Linked DNA regions of Homo sapiens: all the other regions are linked to region 4. Evidence: fine-mapped expression QTL. A gene starts in region 4. Each other region holds a variant in brackets. All regions are shown on one strand. Distances are from middle to middle.

Region 1 (4,171 bases), 83 kb before region 4:
AACATACCCAAATGGATTTAGGGCAGAAACGCAGGGCTGGTTGAGCATATGAAAATCTATGTAAGACACCATATCAATAAAGGAAAAAAACTACATAATCATGTCAACAGATAGAGACAAACATTTGACAAAATCCAAAACCCCTTTATAATGAAAACACTCAACAAGCTAGAAATAAAAGGGAATTCCTCAATCTAGTAAAGGGCATCTATGGAAAAACTCATAGCTAATATCATACCTAATGGTGAAAAACTAAAAGCTTTCCTCTAAAAACAGGAATGAAGATGGGAATGTCAGCTTTCACCACTTCTATTCAACATTTTACTAGCCAGGGCAATTAGGGAAGGACAAAAAAGTGTCCAGATTTAAAAGGAAGAACTACAACTCTATTCCCAAATGACATAATCCTATATATAGAAAATCCCAAGGAATCCACACCAAAAAAAATTCAGCAAAGTTGCAGGATACAAGATCCAATATATAAAAATCAATTTTATGTCTATACAATTGCAATCTAAAAATGAAATGTGGCTGGGCATGGTGGCTCACGCCTATAATCCCAGCACTCTGGGAGCTGGAGGTGGGTGGATCCTGAGGTCAGGAGTTCAAGATCAGCCTGGCCAAAATGGTGAAACCCCATCTCTACTAAAAATACAAAAATTAGCAAGGCGTGGTGGCATGCACCTGTAATCCCAACTACTCAGGAGGCTGAGGCAGGAGAACTGCTTGAACCCAGGAGGCGGAGGTTGCAGTGAACCGAGATCGTACCACTGCACTCTAGCCTGGGCGACAGAGCAAGACTCCCCATCTCAAAAAAAAAAAATTTTTTTTAATTCTATTTATAAAAGCATCAAAAAGAATAAAATACTTGTAAGAAATAACTACAAAACTTATACATTAAAATATTGTTTTTTGTTTTGTTTTGTTTTTTGAGACAGTCTCGCTCTGTCGCCCAGGCTGGAGAGCAGTGGCACCATCTCAGCTCACTGCAAGCTCCGCCTCCCAGGTTCATGCCATTCTCCTGCCTCAGCCTCCCGAGTAGCTGGAACTACAGGCGCCCGCCACCACGTCCCACTAATTTTTTGTATTTTTAGTAGAGACGGGGTTTCACCATGTTAGCCAGGATGGTCTCGATCTCCTGACCTCGTGATCCACCCACCTCGGCCTCCCAAAGTGCTGGGATTACAGGCGTGAGCCACCGCGCCCAGCTCTGAAAATGTTAAAGAAAACTGAAGGCCGAGCGCAGTGGTTCATGCCTGTAATCCCAACACTTTGGGAGGCCAAGGAGGGCGAATCACGAGGTCAGAAGTTCAAGACCAGCCTGTCCAACATGGTGAAACTCCGTCTCTACCAAAAATACATTAAAAAAAAAAAATTAGCTGGGCGTGGCGATGGGTGCCTGTAATCCTAGCTAGTCGAGAGGCTTAGGCAGGAGAATGGCTTGAATTCAGGAGGCGGAGGTTGCAGTGACCCGAGATCACGCCACTGCACTCCAGCCCAGGTGACAGTGCAAGACTCTGTCTCAAAATAAATAAATAAAATAAAATAAAATAGAAGACCTAAATAAATGGACAAGCATCCGGTGTTCCCCAATTGGAAGACTTGCTATTAAGATGGCGATATCCTAAACTGATCTACATATTCAACACAATCCCTTTCAAGATCCTGAAAGGCTTTTTTGCAGATATTGACAACAAGATCCTAA[A/C]ACTCATACGAAAATCCAAGTGACAGCCGGGCGCAGTGGCTCACACCTGTAATCCCAGCACTTTGGGAGGCCGAGGCCGGCGGATCACGAGGTCAGGAGATCGAGACCATCCTGGCTAATATGGTGAAACCCCATCTCTACTAAAAATACAAAAAAAAAAAAAAAAAAAAAAAAATTAGCTGGGCATGGTGGGGGCGCCTGTAGTCCCAGCTACTCGGGAAGCTGAGGCAGGAGAATGGCGTGAACCTGGAAGGCAGAGGTTGCAGTGAGCTGAGATCGCACCACGGCACTCCAGCCTGGGCGATAGAGAGAGACTCTGTCAAAAAAAAAAAAAAAGAAAGAAGAAAGAAAGAAAAGAAAGAAAAAGCAAGCAAGCAAGCAAGCAAGGGACCCAATCTTGAAAAAAAAGAAAAGAAAAGAAAAGAAAAGAAATGAAAGAAAATGCAAGGGACCCAATCATGAAAAAGACAAAGTTGAAGGACTCACATTTCCTCATTACAAAACTTATTACACTGCTGCAACAATGCTCGCATTAGGACAGACATATACATCAACGGAATAGAACTGAGAACCCAGAAATTAACCATCACATTTATGTTCAACTGATTTTCAAAAACGATGGCCAGGCAATTCAATGGGGAAAGCATGGTCTTTTCAACAAACGCTGCTGAGCCAACTGTACATGAAAAGAATGAAGCCTGGATCCTACCTAACATCATATACAAAAATTAAGTCAAAACGGATCAAAGACTTAAATGTAAGAGCTAAAACTATGCAAATTTTCCAAGGAAACATAAACTCCCTGGTTTGGATTGGGCAATCAGACACGACAACAAAAGCAAAGAAACCAACTGGAAAACAAGAAGGTGGATTTCATCAAAAATTAAAAACATCTGTGCTTCAAAGGAAGGCATCAAGAAAATAAAAATTAGGCCGGGCACAGTGGCTCATGCCTATAATCCCAGCACTTTGAGAGGCCGAGGCAGGTGGATCACTTGAAGTCAGGAGTTCAAGACCAGCCTGAACAACATGGTGAAACCCTGACTCTACTAAAAATACAAAAATAAGCCGGCGTGCTGGTGCGCACCTGTAATCCCAGCTTCTCAGGAGGCTGAGGCAGGGGAATCGCTTGAACCCGGGAGGCGGAGGTTGCAGTGAGACTAGATTGCACTCCAGCCTAGGCGACAAGAGCGAGACTGTCTCAAAAAAAAAAAAAAAAATTAGAAAGTGAAAAGACAGCCCACAGAATGAGAAAAAATATTTGCAAAAAAGTAGAGCAGTGTCGGGGGTCGGGGAGGGAGGATTAGGGAAGTCCTGCTAATGGGTATGAGGTTTCTTTTTGGGGTGACGGAATGATCTGGAAGTAGTGGTAATGACGGAATGATCTGGAAGTAGTGGTAATGGTTGGACCACTCCAGACATACCAAAGAACCCCACTGAGGTGCACATTTTAAAATGTGAATTTTATAGTAAATGAATTACATCTCAATAAAAATAAATCATCTGCTCCTGGACTGATACTGGAATATGGCAACAGCTATCGGTGTGAAGACATTTTCAAAGATGAAACAGAAAACTGTGTCACAGTAAGCACTTAACAGATGAACAGCTCCAGTAATTTTTATGATGGGGAACATTAACATTGAACCCCAATTAAGCAAAATGTTATCCCCCCAAAAATTCTGTTCTTCTAATCAGTAGATCTGTATTACAAAAAAAAAAAAAGTAGTCAATTATATTTTGATCTTTGTCAACAAAAATTTGTGGAGTTATCCTTGATTTTGCTTCTTGGTGCATGAGTCTGAAATACTATCCAGCCTGCTCAGAAAGAGTTTGCCACCCCTGGAATAAACCACCCCAGAGCTGACCTGAGCATGCCTTCCCTGTCCGGGTGAATGGCACGGCCACCCACCCTTCCGTTCAAGCAGAGAACCCAGCATTTGGCTCCGGCCTAGTCCCACAAGTCATCCTTGTGCCCTCCTCATCTGCCACATAACCGGTGACCACCCACTCCCTGAGGACTGCGTTTGCTGCCTCCACTGCCATCCGTCTACAATCCGTTCTTCACACAGCAGCAGGAAGACCAGGAAGGAAGCCAGAGCCTAACACGCAAACCTGATGAGGTCACTCCCTGCCTTGAAACCCTCCTACTGCCCTTATTGCAAGGACGAGAATCATTAGCATGGTCTCCACAGCTCCATCAGCCCACCTAGGTTAGCAACCTGCCCCGTGTGATGCTATACCCAGGAATATGATCAAAGGAACAGTCATTAAATGCTTGAAGAAGTGGTCTAGGCCGGGCACAGTGGCTCACGCCTGTAATCCCTAAAAAGTGGTCTAGGCTGGGCACAGTGGCTCACGCCTGTAATCCCAGCACCGTAGGAGGCCAAGGCAGGCAGATGGCTTGAGTCCAAGAGCTCGAGACCAGCCTGGGTAACATTGTGAAACCCTGTCTCTACCAAAAAT
Region 2 (4,171 bases), 21 kb after region 4:
GAGTCTGGGAGTGCTCCCATCTGGAGTGGACACTTGGGGAGGAGTCTGGGGATGCTCCTGTCTGGAGTGGACACTGTTGTGGAGGATTCTGGGAGTCCTCCCGCCTGGAGTGGACATTGTTGGGGAGGATTCTGGGGGTGCTCCCGTCTGGAGTGGACACTTGTGGAGGATTCTGGGAGTCCTCCCGCCTGGAGTGTACACTGTTGTGGAGAATTCTGGGAGTCCTCCCGCCTGGAGTGGACACTGTTGGGGAGGAGTCTGGGGGTGCTCCCGTCTGGAGTGGACATTCACTGAGGAGTCTGGGAGTGCTCCCATCTGGAGTGGACACTTGGGGAGGAGTCTGGGGGTGCTCCTGTCTGGAGTGGACACTGTTGTTGAGGATTCTGGGAGTCCTCCCGCCTGGAGTGGACACTGTTGGGGAGGAGTCTGGGAGTCCTCCCGCCTGGAGTGGACACTGTTGGGGAGGACTCTGGGAGTGCCCCCGTCTAGAGTGTACACTGTTGTGGAGAATTCTGGGAGTCCTCCCGCCTGGAGTGGACACTGTTGGGGAGGAGTCTAGGGGTGCTCCCGTCTGGAGTGGACACTCACTGAGGAGTCTGAGAGTGCTCCCATCTGGAGTGGACACTCACTGAGGAGTCTGAGAGTGCTCCCATCTGGAGTGGACACTTGGGGAGGAGTCTGGGGGTGCTCCCGTCTGGAGTGGACACTGTTGTTGAGGATTCTGGGAGTGTTCCCGTCTGGAGTGGACACTCACTGAGGAGTCTGGGAGTGCTCCCGTCTGGAGTGGACACTGTTCTTGGATTCGTAGCCACACCTGATGTCCTTGGGCTCTTACCTGCTTGCTTCACCTTCTCCAGAGAGTTCCTGGTAGTCCTCTGGCCACGGGGAAAAGCCATTTCCAGCCTGTTGGGGTCAGGAAAGTGACTTGGGGTTAGCCTGCCCCTCTTCCCGTCTCACCTGCATGTTAGCCTCGTTCTGGCTCTGCAGTGAGGACCAGTCCTCTCTGTCCAGGTTCTGCACCTCTAAAACCAAGTGTCAGCTTTCCTTAGAGGGCTCCACCAGCCATGACCCTGTCACTTGCTTTCATCAGCCGCTAAAATTTCAGTGACATTTTTTATCTACTCTTAGCTTTTGTCTTTATCCTTGGAGGTTTGTATCTTTTTAAGAGAGCAGAGATAAGCATGTATATTCCACAAGGGGACAAAGATAAGCATTTACCTTCAACTTACCTTTCTTTTTTGGAGACAGTCTCACTCTGTCACCCAGGCTGGAGTGCAGTGGCGTGATCTTGGCTCACTGCAACCTCCATTTCCTGGGTTCAAGTGAGTCTTGTGCTTCAGCCTCCCGAGTAGCTGGGACTACAGGTATACACCAGCATGCCCGTGTAATATTTGTATTTTTAGTAGAAACAAGGTTTCACCATGTTGGCCAGGCTGGTCTTCAACTCCTGACCTCAAGCGATCTGCCCTCCTGGGCCTCCCAAAGTGCTGGGATTATAGGTGTGAACCACCGTGCCTGGCCCAACCCACCATTTTTAATGGGAGATAGTCTTTATTATTTTAATTTTTATAAAGTTGTTACAAAATACCGCAGATACGCAAAAAAGCGTGATGTTGCTGGGAATGGCGGTTGGCACCTATAGTCCTGGCTGTTCGGGAGAGGAAAGGAGATTGCTGAGCCTCGTAGTTCTAGGCCAGCCCAGACAACATAGCAGGACCCTGTCTCTAAAACAAGTAGGCATGACACAGCAAACAGGCATCTTAACTCGAACCCAGGTTATATAGTTTTAACCCTGGTTAGCTAGAACACAGGTTAGATGCACACTGCCGGCTCTGTTCACATTACCCACGTGTGCTCTCATTTCACCTTCTCTTTTCTTCAGAGATAGCTACTTTTCTGAATTTTCTTTGGTACTTATACAATATGTAGTATAATTTTGCTTGACTCTAAATCTCATAAATGGCATCACACCAGGATTCCTCACCTTTCCTAATTTGAGCAACATTATGAACGTGAGATTCATTGGCGTGAGTGGGTGTCGTTCTAGTTCAGTCGTTGACACCACCGTTGATTTCTCCGTGGCTGAGTGACAGCTGGGTTGGGTGTGATTGCTGGCTGCTACATACAGCACTGCCGAGATCTGAAGATGTGCAAGTGTGGGGAGCCCTCGGGGACCCCTGCCTGCCAGAGGAGCTGCGTGTCCACCTGGGCTTCCCAGCATCCAGCCTCTCCCTGTGGTTTTCACAGCTTCCTGATCTGGGGTGAGGTTATGAAGGCATGGTTTTTTGAAGTAAACAAGTGGATTTGAAATAAAACACACAAAAGCCATTTTTAGCAACAGCTGCTAAGTTGTTATTC[T/C]TTTTCCCCACCCGCCCCCAAACACACGCACGTGCTTTTCTCCCTGATTCCAGAGTGGAGATGAGACTTGCCCAGCTGATGCGGTTGGTGGGGGTGTCTCTCCCTTGAGTCTGGAGCAGGCCGTGATTTCAGTCGCTGGACCCCGGCTGTTGGGGCTGGCAGATGACTCCTCTCAACCGTTCTGTGCTTGTGTTTCTTGTGGTGTGGTGTAGCTCTCTTAGGGAGGAACTTGCTCTACATAAAGGTTTTGAAAGGAACGGAACAAAATTCCAAGTGGAAGAAAAATTGCTGAGTCTCAGAGATCGATTAGCATGTGCCAAGAGCTGAGTATCTGGTGTGCTCGATGTGCGGGGCCCGCAGCAGGCCTGAGTGTCGGCCAGTTGTGCTTTGGAGCCCAGCACCAGGAGATTGGGCACCCTCTAAGTTCCTTGTTTGGGTTCTCGTTTATGTGGCCTCGTGCAGGAAGGTACATTGGAATTCTCCTGAACAGCAGCAGCCGTGAGCCTGGTCTACACAGGTGAGCAGCTGCTGTTTGATTTAGTATCTGTGGTGATGTGTTAGGCATCTTCATTCAGGCTCTCAAAGAAGAAGGAAATTAAGATTTTATTTTTAACTAAAATAAATGGGAGAGTTACAGTTCTGCTGTGGCAAGGTAGTGCCACAACAGCCTGTCCTGCTGATTACAGTGAAAAACTCTGGACAGAATGCAGAAAACAATTCTTGGAGAACTCCGAAAATAAAGCCAGTAGACTGTGGATAGTCATCGTGGAGCCGCCACCCACGAGGGTTCTGCTTCCTGCTTTTTCGTTTTCTTCTGTTACTCATGGCCTTGCCTTGATGGTAGCCCAGTTATGGAGCAAAAGCCCTGATGGGAATCCTCCAAAAGCACCAGAAGAAGGGCCCCCAAGGGCCAGAGAGAGTGTGTGGATCTCAGGGAGGAGAGAGCCAGGGAAGTAGATGCACAGATTTTGTCTGTGAACCTGTACAAGGCTCAGGACAGACCCAGAGCAGCATAACAAAGACTTTGAAACTGTATTAAGATTCATACTTCAAGGCCAGGTGCGGTGGCTCACGCCTGTAATCCCAACACTTTGGGAGGCCGAGGCGGGCAGATCACAAGGTCAAGAGATCAAGACTGTCCTGGCCAACATGGTTAAACCCTGTCTCCACTAAAAATACAAAAAAATTAGCTGGGTGTGGTGGCGCGCACCTCTAGTCTCATCTACTCGGGAGGCTGAGGCCGGAGAATCGCTTGAACCCGGGAGGCAGAAGTTGCAGTGAGCCGAGATCATGCCACTGCACCACAGCCTGGGAAACAGAGCAAGACTGTATCTCAGGAAAAAAAAAATTCAAACTTCAGGCTGGGCGCGGTGGCTCACACCTGTAATCCCAGCACTTTGGGAGGCTGAGGCGGGCGGATCACATGAGGTCAGGAGTTCCACACCAGCCTGGTCAACATGGTGAAACCCCGTCTCTACTAAAAATACAAAAATTTAGCCAAGTGTGGTGGTGTGTGCCTGTAATCCCAGCTACTCAGGGGGCTGAGGCAGGAGAGTTGCTTCAACCCAGGAGGCGGAGGTTGCAGTGAGCCGAGATCGTGCCACTACACTCCAGCCTGGGTGGTAGAGTGAAACTCCGTCTCAAAAAAAAAAAAAAAAAAACAAAGATTCAAACTTCACCTCGAATCTCAGATTGACTCCTGAGTGGTGCATGTTCAGGGCAGAGCAAAGCATCAGAACCAAGGCTTTGAAAACAGAGAAACTGGAATCCACCATCCACAGATACAGACTTGTGGTCTGAACCCAACCAGCTT
Region 3 (4,171 bases), 150 kb before region 4:
TCTTAAATACCATTAAAAAAACCAAACACTATCTTAAATGTCCATGTTTCTTAAAATTAAAACCAATAGAAAATCCTCAATCTACAACCAGGGCAAGGCCACAAGCCTCCGGTCTTGGTCCTGCTTGTTTATGAGAACAAAGTGGCCCAGTCCTTCCCTCCAAGTCCCGAGCTCAGTGAGCTCCTTCCTCCCACACATTCCCCTACAGGCTGCAGAGCTGAGGTCACATCATAACCTCACTGTTTACAGACACATAGTGATATGGTTTGGCTCTGTGTCCCCACCAAAATCTCATGTTGAACTGTAATCCCGAATATTGGGGGAGGGGCCTGATGGGAGGTAACTGGATCATGGGGGCAGATGTCCCCCTTGCTGTTTTCGTGATATATCTCACAAGATCTGGTTGTTGGAAAGTGTGTGGCACTTCCCCCTTTGCTCTCTCTTCATCCTTATGGCCAGGTAAGATGTGCTCGCTTCCCCTTTGCCCTCCCGCCATGATTGCTAAGTTTCCTGAGGCCTCCCTAGAAGCAGAAGCCTCTACAGCCCACAGAACCATGAGCTGATCAAACCTCTTTTCTTTATAAATTACCCAGAATTAGGTATATCTTTATAGCAGTGTGAGAACAGACTAATACAGAAAATTGGTACTGGAGAAGTAGGGCATTGCTATAAAGATACCTGAAAATGTGGAAGCAGCTTTGGAAATGGGTAATGGGCCGAAGTTTGAACAGGTTAAAGGGCTAGGAAGAAGAAAGGAAGATGAACTTCCTAGAGGCTTTTTGAATGGTTTTGACCAAAATGCTGACAGTGATATGGACAATGAAGTCCAAGCTGAGGAGGTCTCAGATGGAGATGAGGAACCTATTGGGAATTGGAGTAAAAGTCACTCTTGCTATGCTTTAGCAAAGAGACAGGCGGCACTGTGTCCCTGCTCTAAGGATCTGTGGAACTTTGAACTTGAGAGAGATGATTTAGGGTATGTGGTGGAAGAAATTCCTAAGTAGCAAAGCAGTCAAGATGTGGCCTGGCTGCTTCTAACAGCATACACTCACATGCGTGCACGAAGAGAGTATCTGAAACTGGAACTTATATTTAAAAGGGAAGCAGAGCATAAAAGTTTGGAAATTTTGCAGCCTGACCATGTGGTAGGAAAAAAAGCACATTTTTCAGGGAAGGGGTTCAAGCCAGCTACAGAAATTTGCATGAGGAGCTGAATGTTAATAGCCAAGACAATGGGGAAAATGCCTCAGAGACCTTTGCAGCAGCCCCTCCCATCACAGGCCTGGAGGCCTAGGAAGGAAGAATGGTTTTGTGGGCCAGACCCAGGGCCTTGCTGCTCTGTGCAACCTCAGTACATGGTGTCCGGCATCACAGCCACTCCAGCTCCAGTGGTGGCTGAAACGGCCCCAGATACATCTCAGGACACTGACCCAAAGGGTGCAAGCTGGCAGCTACCAAGGCTTCTACATGGTGTTAACCCAGCAGGTGCACACAGGGCAAGAGTTAAGGCTTGGGAGCCTCCACCTAGATTTCACAGGATGTATGGATATCATCCATACATCTGTGGTGGCGCATGCCTGTAATCCCAGCTACTCAGGAAGCTGAGGCAGGAGAATTGCTTGAATTCAGAGGATGCTGGATGTGGAGGCCAAGTATATGGAAATGTCCAGATGTCCAGACAGAAGCTTCCTGCAGGGGCGAAGCCCCCACGGAGAGCCTCTACTAGGGCAGTGTGGATGGGAAATGTGGGACTGGAGCCCCACATA[G/A]AGTCTCCACTGGGGCACTGCCTAGTGGAGCTGTGAGAAGAGGACCACTACCCTCCAGACCCCAGAATGGTAGATCCATCTACGGCTTGTACCACACGCCTAGAAAAGCAGCAGGCACTCAACGCCAGCCCATGAAAGCAGCTGCAGGAGCTGTACCCTGAAGAGCCACAGAGGCAGAGCTGCCCAAGGCCTTGGGAGCCCACCCCTTCCACCAGTGTGGCCTGGAAGTGAGACATGGAGTCAAAGAAGATTATTGTGGAACTCAGACTGCCCTGCTGGGTTTCAGACTTACATGGAGCCTGTAGCCCCTTTGTTTTGGTCAATTTTTCCCTTTTGGAACAGAAGCATTTACCCAATGCCTGTATTACTATTGTTTCTTGGAAGTAAGCTTTTTATTTTACAGGCTGATAGGCAGAAGGGACTTACCTTGTCTCAGATAAGACTTTGGACTTTTGAGTTAATGCTGGAATGAGTTAAGACTTTGGGAAATTGCTGGAAGGCATATTTGTGTTTTGAAATGTGAGAAGGACCCAGCACTTTGGGAGGCCGAGGTGGGTGGATCATGAGGTCAGGAGTTTGAGACCAGCCTGACCAACATGGTGAAACCCTGTCTCTATTAAAAATACAAAAATTAGGCTGGGCGCAGTGGCTCACATCTGTAATCTCAGCACTTTGGGAGGCTGAGGCGAGTAGATCACCTGAGGTCAGAAGTTCGAGACGAGCCTGGCCAACATGGTGAAACCCCGTTTCTACTAAAAATACAAAAATTAAATGGACATGGTGGCGGGCACCTGTAATCCCAGCTACTTGAGAGGCTCAGGCAGGAGAATCACTTGAACCCAGGAGGCAGAGGTTGCAGTGAGCTGAGATCGCACCATTGCACTCCAGCCTGGGCGACAAAAGCAAAACTCCGTCTCAAAAAAAAAAAAAAATTTAACCAGGCATGGTGGCGCGTGCCTGTAATCCCAGCTATTCAGGAGGCTGAGGCAGGAGAATTCCTTGAACCTGGGAGGTGGAGGTTGCAGTGAGCTGAGATCACACCATTGCACTCCAGCCTGGGCAACAAGAGCAAAACTCCATCTCAAAAAAAAAAAAAAAAAAATTAGCCAGGCATGGTGGCGCCCACCTGTAATCCCAGCTACTCAAGAGGCTGAGGCAGGAGAATTGCTCAAACCCGGGAGGCAGAGGTTGCAGTGAGCCAAGATCACACCATTGCACTCCAGCCTGGGCGACAAGAGCAAAACTGCACGTCAAAATAAAATAAAATAAAATAAAAATTAGCCAGGTGTGGTGGCACATGCCTGCAATCCCAGCTACTCAGGAAGCTGAGGCAGGAGAATCACTAGAGCCTGGGGGACAGAGGTTGCAGTGAGCTGAGATCGCATCATTGCACTCCAGCCTAGGTGACAGAGTGAGACTCTGTCTCAAAAAAAAACAAGAGAAAAAAAAAAAAGAAATGTGAAAAGGACATGAGATTTAGGAGGGATCAGGGGCAAAATGATATGGTTTGCTCTGTGTCCCCACCCAAATCTCATGTTTAACTGTAATCCTCAATGTTGGGGGAGGGACCTGGTAGGAGCTGACTGGATCATGGGGGCGGACGTTCCCCTTGCTGTTCTCATGATAATGAGTGAGTTCTCATGAGACCTGGTTGTTGGAAAGTGTGCAGCACTTTCCCCTTCATGCTTTCTCTCTCCTGCCAGCCATGTGAAAATATGCCTGCTTCTCCTAGGCCTTCCGCCATGATTTTAAGTTGCTTGAGGCTTCCCCAGAAGCAGAAACCTATACAGCCTGCCCACAGAACCATGAACCGATTAAACCTCTTTTCCTTATAAATTACCCAGCCTCAGGTATGTCTTTATAGCAGTGTGAGAACGAGCCAATACACCCAGAAACCTGGCATTTTTTATAGTAAAACAAGAGCTACAATTTGTAAAGCCAGAATTGATCACAGGAACAGTTCCTTCACTGACCTATCCAGATTCTCATCAATGTCACAGCCTATAATAAAACCTCAATTAGAACAGTACCTAAGCATCAAGGGCTGAATGCTATGGTAGGGAGGGTGGGGTGGCATGGCAGGGGTGCAAAATCTACCCAATCCATGATCAAAATGGGTCACAACAGCAACAAATCAAACCTTTTGAGAAAGGAGAACAGCGGACTAATGAGGCCCACCTCAGCACACATTTGACGTGCTTGAGCTGGACTCCACCATCCTTCTAGAAAACAACATTGTCTTCTTCCGAATGCCCACTTTAATATATTGTCTAAGGCACTGATGTGGCTGGAGAAAAAAGGATTATTTCCCACTTCGTGAAGTTTTTTCCTTAAATGTTAATTGGTGGGTTCAGATAGACACAAAAACTTAAGGGGAAAAAAGTTCCCCAGATAGTGAAGTAGAA
Region 4 (4,108 bases):
GCCCAGGCTGGGGTGCAATGGCACAATCTTGACTCACTGCAACCTCCGCCTCCCAAGTTCAAGCGATTCTCCTGCCTCACCCTCCCAATAGCTGGCATCCACCAGCATGCCCGGCTAATTTTGTATATTTAGTAGAGACAAGGTTTCTCCATGTTGGTCAGGCTGCTCTCAAACTCTGGACCTCAGGTGATCCGTCCACCTTGGCCGCCCAAAGTGCCGGGATTACAGGCGTTGAGCTGTGCCTTTTTTTTTTTTTGAGACAGAGTCATGCTCGTCACCCAGGCTGGAGTGCAGTGGCTCAATCTCGGTGGCTCCATCTCGACTCACTGCCCTCCACCTCCCAGGTTCAAGTGATTCTCCTGCCTCAGCCTCCGGAGTAGCTGGGATTACAGGTGTGTGCCACCATGCCTGGCTAATTTTTGTATTTTTAGTACAAATGGGGTTTCACCATGTTGGCCAGGCTCCTGACCTCAGATGACCCGCCTGTCTCGGCTTCCCAAAGTGCTGGGATTACAGGCATGAGCCAGGGCGCCCAGCCCCAAGCATTTTGGATAACGACGCTCAACCTGTATTGGATCCCTATGCAGGTAAGTAAAAGGGAGTGTGTGTTCCAAGTTGCCTTGGGGGTCATCAGCTTGAAATATGTGAAGTCTGTAGGGAACACTCATCACTGCAGCACCCACACGGGTTAGCTCCCAAATACTGGACAGATGGTGACTTTAGGTGTGTGAACAAACTGGGTGTGTTACATCCAACTCCTGCTGTGAGGGCTTTTGTCTCTCTGGGAGGAACTGTGGTTGAGGTACAGGCCACTATTTGTCAAATCCTCAGCATTTACTAATGATACATAGGTGACTACAAGCAAAAAAACATGCAGTTTTATCCCTTTTTTGAGACGGAGTCTCACTCTGTTACCCAGGCTGGAGTGCAGTGGTGCGATCTCGACTCACTGCAAGCTCTGCCTCCTGGGTTTAAGCGATTCTCTTGCCTTTGGAGTAGCTGGGACTACAGTCGCACGCCACCACGCCTGGCTAATTTTTGTATTTTTAGTAGAGATGGGGTTTCATCATGCTGGCCAGGCTGGTCTTGAACTCCTAATCTTGTGATCCTCCCGCCTCAGCCTCCCAATGTGCTGGGATTACAGGCGTGAGCCACCGCACCTGGCCTTATCCCTTTCTTCTTTTCTGATGATACAACACAACATGTCACTATATGTCAGATTGCAACAGGAAATTTTCCTAGGCTGGGCGCAGTGGCTCACACCTGTAATCCCAGCATTTTGGGAGGCTGAGGCGGGCGGATCATTTCAGCCCATGAGTTCTCAGCCTGGGCAGCATAGTGAGACCCCCATCTCTGTATCTTTGTTCCCTGGGTGAATAATTTGGGGGATGAACTGACCAGTGCTGTCATCCGGCACAATCTGCCTTGTAAATTCTTTCTCCTGCAAGCTGAGTGATGTTTGCCCTTGGCAGGTTCCCAGAACCTTCGGACTCGGAAGATGACCTCCAAAGAGGTTCACAGCGCCGAGTCTGCATGAGAACTCGGCTTAGGTGCCTGCACTGAAATCTGTCATGCTGCACACTTTGCCATGACCTGAGGCCAAAAAACAAACACCGTATAGCTGGCAAAGGCGTTTAATAGAAATGAGATGAGGGCAGGCCGCCCCTCCCCCGCCCAGCTAGCGCAGGAAGTTCCTGGGGTAGAGCTGGAAGAGCTTTCCCTCCTGTGTGGGCTCGAAGCCGTACTTTTCCAGGTTGTCAGGGTCGAAGGTACCGTCCTTGAAGTCCTTTTCGATGGCAGGCGCCACGGCTTCGCTGAAGAGCTGCGCGGCCGTCAGGGGCGTCTCCTCGCTCTCAGGGGCGAGGTAGCTCACGTAGGGCTTGAGCTTGAAGCCGGTCAGATCCGGGACGACGAACTCCGGGACCATCTCCTTGATCTGCACGAACCTCCAGCCCGAGGTGAGGAAGCCGATGCCCTTGGCGCCCCGGCCCTTGCGGCCCCTGAAGCTGCGCGGGCCCCGCTTGCTCGTCCACTTGCTCATTCGGTCCGCACCCCGGACCAGGCAGCGCGCCGCTGCGGCCAGGACGCCCATGCCGCGCCCTGCGGGAGGAGAGAGCGGGTAGTCGCGGCCCCGGGAACCCGGCCAGCCCCGCCCCTGGCCGCGCGCGGCGCCCGCCCCAATCCGACAGACTCACCTGGACCGGAGACCCCACACGAGCTCCAAGCGGCCCCGGCTCCGGCGCCAACCCGGCCTCGACCTTGCTCCGCTTCCGACCGCTGCGTCGCAGCAAGAGCGGCTCCGATTGGCCGCGGCCGCCGCGTCCAATAGCGGCCCCAATCTGGTAGGGGGTGTGGCCGCGGGGACTCGGCCAATGCGAGGAGCGCGCGGGGCGGGGCGGGGCTCGCGGGGCTGGCGGTGCGGGGCCGGCGGTGCGGGGCTCGCGGGGCGGGGCTCGCGGGGCGGGGCTCGCGGGGCGGGGCTCGCGGGGCGGGGCTCGCGGGGCGGGGCTCGCGGGGCGGGGCTGGCGGATGAGTGATCGCTCTCAGCGCGGTGGTCCCTGGCGTCTCCACTGCCCGCCACTGCCTGTGTTCGTCCGCCAGGTGGCCGGCGGTTTCCCGGGAGCCCAGTCCCCCTGAGGCCGTGAGGTGGCGTCGGGAGGTCGGGGAGGACGCGGGCCCTGGACTCGAGACGGCCGCCGCGTTGACGCCGCGACCCTGCCTTTCTTACCCCTCCGCCGGGCGCGGCTCCTCTGGGCGGAGCCGGCAACCGCGCGGGGAAAGCCCGGGACCTGCAGCCGGGAGGGCCCGGGCTGTCTGTGCTCCCCCGCAGGCCGGGCAGTGGTGTGGGGGGACTCGAGCCCTCGCGGTGCCCAAATTAATCAATAATCTTGGACCCAGCACGTCCGGCTTGCGCACTGAGCCCTCCTGCCCGGTCACCCTCGCAGGCGACCTCTCACCCCACGCGGAAGTCGCCCCCCAGCCGCACCCTCACAATCCGGATCCACCCCCTCCCCAGCTGCACCCCGTCCCCAGCGGCACCCCCACAGCCCAGATCCATCCCCTCTCCAGCTGCACGCCCTTCCCCAGCGGTACCCCCACACCCCAGATCCATCCCCTCCCCAGCTGCACCCCCTCCCCAGCGGCACCCCCACGCCCCAGATCCACCCCCTCCCCAGCTGCACCCCCTCCCCAGCGGCACCCCCACGCCCCAGATCCACCCCCTCCCCAGCTGCACCCCCTCCCCAGCGGCACCCCCACACCCCAGATCCACCCCCTCCCCAGCTGCACCCCCTCCCTAGCGGTACCCCCACTCGCCGGATCCACGCGCTCCCCAGCTGCACCCTCTCCCCAGCAGTACCCCCACACCCCAGATCCACCCCCTCCCCAGCTGCACCCACTCCCCAGCGGTACCCCTACACGCCGGATCCACCCCCTCCCCAGCTGCACCCACTCCCCAGCGGCACCCCCACACCCCAGATCCACCCCCTCCCCAGCTGCACCCACTCCCCAGCGGTACCCCTACACGCCGGATCCACCCCCTCCCCAGCTGCACCCTCCTCCCCAGCTGCATCCCCACACCCCGGATCCACGCCCCGCCAGCGTCACCTCCCCTCCAGCCGTGCTTCTCCAGAAGGCAGCGCTGCCCCCATCCCCGCCGCGCTGGGCCTGGCTCCTCTTGACCTGCTTGGATACGCCCCATCTGGCTGCTGTTCTGGGTTCCGGGACAGCCACGTGAGGGCTGTTTACAGAGGGAAGGAGGTGGCTCCTAGCAGATGACAGACACTTCTCAAAAGACAGCTTTTCTTCCTGGAGAACAGACTTTTTCAGCAGGATTTTCCTTTCAGTGAAACATAATTTGACTTGAAAGGAACCCAGGGAAAAGTGTCCAGGTGTGAGCATGAGCGGGTAGAGGTGTGCCCTTGTTTGCTTCAGGCTGTCTGCTTTTCGCCCCTGACTGTTTTTTCTGTTTCTGGCCATGGAGGAAGAGAAAGATGACAGCCCACAGGTATGTAACTCGGGGGACCAGATGCCTGGATTTCCCAGTTGGGGGGCATTTCTGGACCCAGAGAAGGGTCCTCTTGGCGTCTGCTCTGCCGCGCTCTTTGGC

Direction of the effects. Positions count from the first base shown, and alleles are read on the strand shown. Sizes are in standard deviations (SD) of each study's normalised expression. Not every link is listed here.
With allele G in place of A in region 3, the expression in subcutaneous fat of the gene that starts at base 2,295 in region 4 is lower (moderate effect, 0.56 SD a copy in FUSION).

The links.
Region 1: its variant is fine-mapped to the expression of MRPL41 in tibial nerve (GTEx, PIP 0.95).
Region 2: its variant is fine-mapped to the expression of MRPL41 in whole blood (TOPMed, PIP 0.97).
Region 3: its variant is fine-mapped to the expression of MRPL41 in subcutaneous fat (FUSION, PIP 0.95).

Annotation. Positions count from the first base shown.
Region 1 is chr9:137,632,578-137,636,748 of GRCh38, reverse strand. All of the region lies in intron 1 of EHMT1 (euchromatic histone lysine methyltransferase 1), which reads right to left. Among named protein-coding and RNA genes, the nearest start is that of EHMT1, 16 kb to the right of the region's middle. RefSeq lists an enhancer at 3,638-3,932. The variant A/C (reference allele first, on the strand shown) is at 1,706.
Region 2 is chr9:137,529,505-137,533,675 of GRCh38, reverse strand. All of the region lies in intron 8 of PNPLA7 (patatin like domain 7, lysophospholipase), which reads left to right. Among named protein-coding and RNA genes, the nearest start is that of PNPLA7, 19 kb to the left of the region's middle. The variant T/C (reference allele first, on the strand shown) is at 2,359.
Region 3 is chr9:137,700,323-137,704,493 of GRCh38, reverse strand. The region is part of intron 1 of EHMT1 (euchromatic histone lysine methyltransferase 1); the gene reads right to left. Among named protein-coding and RNA genes, the nearest start is that of EHMT1, 83 kb to the right of the region's middle. The variant G/A (reference allele first, on the strand shown) is at 1,767.
Region 4 is chr9:137,550,066-137,554,173 of GRCh38, reverse strand. It overlaps MRPL41 (mitochondrial ribosomal protein L41), which reads right to left and starts at 2,295. Exons shown (of 2, transcript NM_032477.3): 1 at 2,196-2,295; 2 at 1,619-2,100. The coding sequence starts at 2,092. The coding sequence ends at 1,679. PNPLA7 (patatin like domain 7, lysophospholipase) reads left to right here and starts at 3,772. Exons shown (of 35, transcript NM_001098537.3): 1 at 3,772-4,006. The coding sequence starts at 3,977. It overlaps LOC124902317 (a long non-coding RNA gene), which reads left to right and starts at 494. Exons shown (of 2, transcript XR_007061883.1): 1 at 494-587; 2 at 1,473-1,647. RefSeq lists a silencer at 2,024-2,973.